Regions from separate parts of the Homo sapiens genome. Here region 1 is linked to region 2. Evidence: fine-mapped expression QTL. A gene starts in region 2. The other region holds a variant in brackets. All regions are shown on one strand. Distances are between the middles of the regions.

Region 1 (3,024 bases), 98 kb after region 2:
AGTGGCTGACCCTGGAGGATGTCCCATCTGGCCGCCTGCACTTGCGCCTGGAGCGTCTCACCCCCCGTCCCACTGCTGCTGAGTTAGAGGAGGTAGGGCAGGAGACTTGAGGAAGGAAGGGACCCAAGGTGGGGCAGGATGAGCTCTTCTCTTAGCGTTCAAGGCACATGCCAGAACCCAAGGTGTCAGTTACCACTCCCCAGCCCCGTGTGCCCCTCCACAGGTGCTGCAGGTGAATAGTTTGATCCAGACTCAGAAGAGTGCGGAGCTGGCTGCGGCCCTGCTATCCATCTATATGGAGCGGGCAGAGGACCTCCCGGTGAGATCCCGCTCCCCATGCCCCATAACTTCCTGGCCCTTCTTCCACCTTCCTCCGGTTTGGATGGTCCTGGAGTATTTAGAATAAGAAAAATGGCCCCTCTCTTTCTGAGGGTAGTGCAGGGGTGGGAAAAGTTGTCTGTTCAAGGCCACGGGTAGTGGCTGCCAAGTAATAATGGAGACATGGCTGCTGGCTGTGGATATAATTTGTGAGGGGGATCTGCCTAACTAGGTCCAAATTTAAGACTAACACAGTATTGTCTTTCTAGCTGCGAAAAGGCACCAAGCACCTCAGCCCTTATGCTACTCTCACTGTGGGAGATAGTTCTCATAAAACCAAGGTATGAAGAAATGCTGCAGGGTAAAAATGGGAGGGATAAGAGAAATAAGAGTATCAGCTACTGATCATAAGCCCTCATCTCCACCAGACTATTTCGCAAACTTCAGCCCCTGTCTGGGATGAGAGTGCCTCCTTTCTCATCAGGAAACCACACACTGAGAGCCTAGAGTTGCAGGTACTGTAAATTCATTCTTCAAATATTTAGCAGATTTCTGCCATGGCCAGGCAGGAAACCAGGCACAGAGCATTCAGAGATGAGATAAAAGGTTGACTTTTTTTTTTTTTTTTGAGACAGAGTCTTGCTCTGTCGCCCAGGCTGGAGTGCAGTGGTGCTATCTTGGCTCACTGCAAGCTCCGCCTCCTGGGTTCACACCATTCTCCTGCCTCAGCCTCCCAAGTAGCTGGGACTACAGGTGCCCGCCACCACACCTGGCTAATTTTTGCATTTTTTTTAGTAGAGATGGAGTTTCACCATGTTAGCCAGGCTGGTCTCGAACTCCTGACCTCAGGTGATCCGCCCACCTCGGCCTCCCAAAGTGCTGGAAATACAGGTGTGAGCCACCGCACCCGGCCAAAAGATTGACTTCTTATCTTTATGGAGCTCACACTCTGTTTTGGGAGAAAAATAACCAGATGAAACTTTCAGAATGATAACTGAGGTAAAAGGCACTGTGGGGAAGAAAGGAAGGGTTCAGGCTGGGGAAAGGCTGGAGATAGAAAGGCATCCTTAGATGACCCC[T/TG]GAGCTTGAGGGTAGATTTTTTTTTTTTTTTTTTGAGACTAGAGTCTCACTCTTATTGCCCAGGCTAGAGTGCAGTGGCGCAATCTCAGCTCACTGCAACCTCAGCCTTCCAGGTTCAAGCGATTCTCCTGCCTCAGCCTCCCGCGTACCTGGGATTACATGCGCGTGCCACCATACCCCACCAATTTTTAGTAGAGACGGGGTTTTGCCATGTTGGCCAGGCTGGTCTTGAACTCCTGACCTCAGGTTATCCATCCACCTCAGCCTCCCAAAGTGCTGGGATTATAGGTGTGAGCCACTGCACCCGGCCTTTTTTTTTTTAGACAGGGTCTTACTCTGTCGCCCAGGCTGGAGTGCCGTGGTGCAATCAGGGCTCACTACAGCCTCAACTCTTGGGCTCTAGCAATCCTCCTACCTCAGCTGGGATAACAGGTGCACACTACCACACCTAGCTAATTTTTGTATTTTTTTGTGGAGATGAGGTTTTACCATGTCATCCAGGCTGGTCTCGAACTCCTGGACTCAAGCATTCTGCCCGCCTCGGCATCCCAAAGTGCTGGGATTACAAGCGTGAGAACCGCGCCCCAGCCTAAGGGTAGATTTACTGGTTCTTTCGGACCACGAAAAGAAGAGCAGGAAAACTCTTTAGGCTGAGAAAAAAAATGGAGGAGAGAGAAGGCATATTTATTATAGATCAGAGAGGCAGGCAGAGCAAGATCATAGGAGCTGTTGAATAGTATGCTAGAAATATGGATTTTATCCTAAGGCTTAGGGAAGCCTTTGTTTATTTTATTTATTATTTTTTTGAAACAGAGTCTTGCTCTGTTGCCCAGGCTGGAGTACAGTGATACGATCTCAGCTCACTGCAACCTCCCTCCTGGGTTCAATCGATTCTCCTGCCTCAGCCTCCCGAGTAGATGGGATTATAGGTGCCCGCCACCACGCCCAGCTAATTTTTGTATTTTTAAGAGAGACGGGGTTTCACCATGTTGGTCAGGCTGGTCTCTAAGTCCTGACCTCAAGTGATCCACTGCCTCGGCCTCCCAAAGTGCTGGAATTACAGGCGTCAGCCACCACACCCAGTCAGGGAAGCCTTTAATGAGAGGTCACATATCCAGATTTGCATTTTGGGAAGATCATAGGGATAAGAGGGTAAAGAATGGACTGGAGAGGGACAACACTGGGGGCAGGGAGATCAGTGAGGAGACTGTTAGAGCAGTCAAAGCAGGAAACGACTAAAGCCTGATGGGATTTGAAGATTGCTGTGATATGGAGCAGGTGGAGGAGCAAGGAACAGCCTAGACACTAACTCTGGGGTTTTTGGCACAGGGTGGCTAGATGGATAAGGGTGCCGTTGCTGACTTAGGGAGTGCACAGAGAGGGAATTTTGGAATTTGAGATCTCTGCAGGACATCCAAGAGAAGACATGCAGAAAACAAATCTATTGTCCATGAGGTGTTCCTCCCTTGCCCTCTTATTGGAACATCATGAGCAAGCAACCACTCATAAGTGTAGTCATGGGTGAGATCTCTTAGGCAGCGTGGAGAGTGAGGAGACAAAAGATGGCCATGAGCCATCTTACAGGTGTGAACCACTGTGCCCGGCTGAAATTAATAGAATTTAAAAT
Region 2 (2,712 bases):
GACTAGGCTGGTCTTGAACTCCTGACCTCAGGTGATCCGCCTGCCTTGGCCTCCCAAAGTGTTGGGATTACAGGCGTGAGCCACTGCACCCAGCCTAAGGCTTAAGTCTTTCCGATGGCTCTTCAGAGGTAAATGGAGCTTACACATAATCTTTCAATTAGGGGTCAGATTCACTAATGAGTGGTGAAATAATTTTCGTGGTTTTTGATCAGCATTTATTAAAATAGAGAACAGAAAGATTAAGTAAAAATAAAGAATAGAACATACCAGCACACCTATGACAAGGGTAAGTATCGTTTCATAAAGCTTGTGTTTCAGTTTTGCATGTGCATGTAATCGTGTTTGTGTGTGTACTGGGTACCAATGTAAAATGTATTCGTGCTATGAATCTGGGTGAAAAACGTTTAAGTCATTAGTCCAGGCTATTCCTCCATCCATTTGTTAGGTGACATACAGCATAGTACAGCGGAGCCAGAATACCTACTGCACGTCAGTTCTTCAATCTTTTTTTTTAATTGATTTATTTATTTTTGAGACAGAGTTTCGATCTTTTTACCCAGGCTAGAGTGCAGTGGCGCGATCTCGGCTCACTGGAAACTCCGCCTCCCAGGTTCAAGATTCTCCTGTCTTAGCCTCCTGAGTACCTGGGATTACAGGCGCCCACCACCAGGCCGGGCTAAATTCTTCAATCTTTAAAGTGAGGATAATAATAGTAGCTACCTATAGGCTTGCTCAAAGTTAAATGAGTTAATATTTATAAAGACGCTTACCACAGGGCCAGGCACTGTGCCAGAGATAAAAAGATGAATGAGAAATAGCCCCAGCCTCAATGCACTTCATTGTGGGATTTTCTCCATATTGGAAGGAGGGATTCACAAAATGCTTGTTTCCTCTCAGGCCTTCCTCTTCGTAATCCTACACCTACCTAGTAGAAGGACTGTCAGAGAAATGAGCCCAGGGCGTCCCCCGGTGGCGCAGCGCCGCCTTCGGTCTAAGCACTTGGGGCAGGGGGGAAGGGGGGGAGGGGGGAGCCTCTTGGCTTCGCACTACAATTCCCACCAAGCATCTGTCCCTCTCTGGCCTCTAATAACGAGTGCGCCTTGTGGTCCAGCGTCTGGCAACTTTCACGCCTAGCGTCGCGTATACCGGAAAACTGCATCGTCCAGAATTGCTTCCGAGTCGGCGCGGCGCAAGGCTTGCTGGGAGACACATAACCTCGATTTTCTTCCGCCATCCGGCTAAATAGTCCCATGTGCACTTTGTTCCATGGATAAATAAACACTAGGAACGCATTTCCACCCTAGATTTCAGCAGAAATGCTGAATGTAAAGGAATATTTGAGTAAAGTGAGTTGCCGTTCTTGAAGCCCGTCTCCTAAGGATTCTCCCGGTGTCCGCGTAGGGATCTCATGCTATATAGGAGGGCCCTGCCAGGCACCGTCTCCTCTCTCCGGTCCGTGCCTCCAAGATGGTGAGTCTTCTTGCGTGGTGAGGGTGGGGGTTCGGGTGCAGACTCTGGGATTGTGGGGAAGTGAGAGCCTGGAGCACGGCTGAGGGGTGGACCGAGTGTACATTTCATTTGCTCTGGGGGTCGGCGGGATTTGCGGAGAAACAGGAGATCCGAGCGGCGCCTTCCTGGAGGCTGCCGGTGCGGCTTGTGGCCGGAAAGGGACTGAGGCTGGGTGAGTTGCGCCGTTTTCCTAACAGTTTTCCCATCCTGTCGCAGACAAAGAAAAGAAGGAACAATGGTCGTGCCAAAAAGGGCCGCGGCCACGTGCAGCCTATTCGCTGCACTAACTGTGCCCGATGCGTGCCCAAGGACAAGGCCATTAAGAAATTCGTCATTCGAAACATAGTGGAGGCCGCAGCAGTCAGGGACATTTCTGAAGCGAGCGTCTTCGATGGTAAGTGGGTCACCGGCGCGAACTGTGTGAGGATCCCAGTATCTTAAAGCCTTCGCCCAACTTCGCCCTTTTGGAGGCTCTGTTCTTTGGAGCCTCTCAGGCAATTTCCACGTATTTAAGGTTGTTACTGGTAGAAGAGAATTCTCTTGTTTGCCGTTTTGATTCTTTTCTGGGCAGAGGGTGACTTTGTGATAGAGTGCACAGCCTTTACTCTGAGGTAAAGGTTTGCCTGTTTCGGTTATGAGATTGCAAAAACTAGAAACTTGGTAAATTTGACAATTCTTGTGCTATTGATTATTTGAATATTTGTGAAAATATACAGGTGAGGAAGAATGTCTTCAACGTTTCGAGAATGGAGGCCGTCTAGTTTGGTGTGCAAGGATGATGTTTGGAGCAATAAGAACGTCGCTTTGTTTTTTTCCTTTTATAGAAAGAGCAAGGTTCAGGGTAGGCATTAGGGCGGGTGTAGGTGTAGAAGGAACTGGATTATTGGTTTATTGCATTTAGAATGTCAGTCTGGTCCTTGCGGTGTCAAGATGAACTCACGTGGGATGTTAATTCACTTGTAAAACTGAGGGTTATACATATGTGCTCAGGTATTGGGCTGAACAGGTGCTTTGGGGGTGCTTTTATGTGCCCGACAGGCATTTAAATAGGTTTAGTTTTAATTGACGTAAACATGTAAGGTGCTCTTCATTCATGTAACAAAAAAGCAAGGTAGGTATATAATACCAGTATAACTCTATTTTCTATTCCTTAGCCTATGTGCTTCCCAAGCTGTATGTGAAGCTACATTACTGTGTGAGTTG

What was found. PIP is the estimated chance that this variant, and not a neighbour inherited with it, causes the effect.
Region 1: its variant is the best candidate, but not a certain one, in a credible set for the expression of RPS26 in breast (GTEx, PIP 0.63).

The regions. Positions count from the first base shown.
Region 1 is chr12:56,138,181-56,141,204 of GRCh38, forward strand. It overlaps ESYT1 (extended synaptotagmin 1), which reads left to right. Exons shown (of 31, transcript NM_015292.3): 21 at 3-92; 22 at 224-319; 23 at 588-659; 24 at 747-833. Among named protein-coding and RNA genes, the nearest start is that of ESYT1, 11 kb to the left of the region's middle. The variant T/TG (reference allele first, on the strand shown) is at 1,398.
Region 2 is chr12:56,040,700-56,043,411 of GRCh38, forward strand. It overlaps RPS26 (ribosomal protein S26), which reads left to right and starts at 1,219. Exons shown (of 4, transcript NM_001029.5): 1 at 1,219-1,470; 2 at 1,726-1,903; 3 at 2,664-2,712. The coding sequence starts at 1,468. RefSeq lists enhancers at 940-1,729, 1,178-1,507, 1,648-1,907 and a silencer at 968-1,027.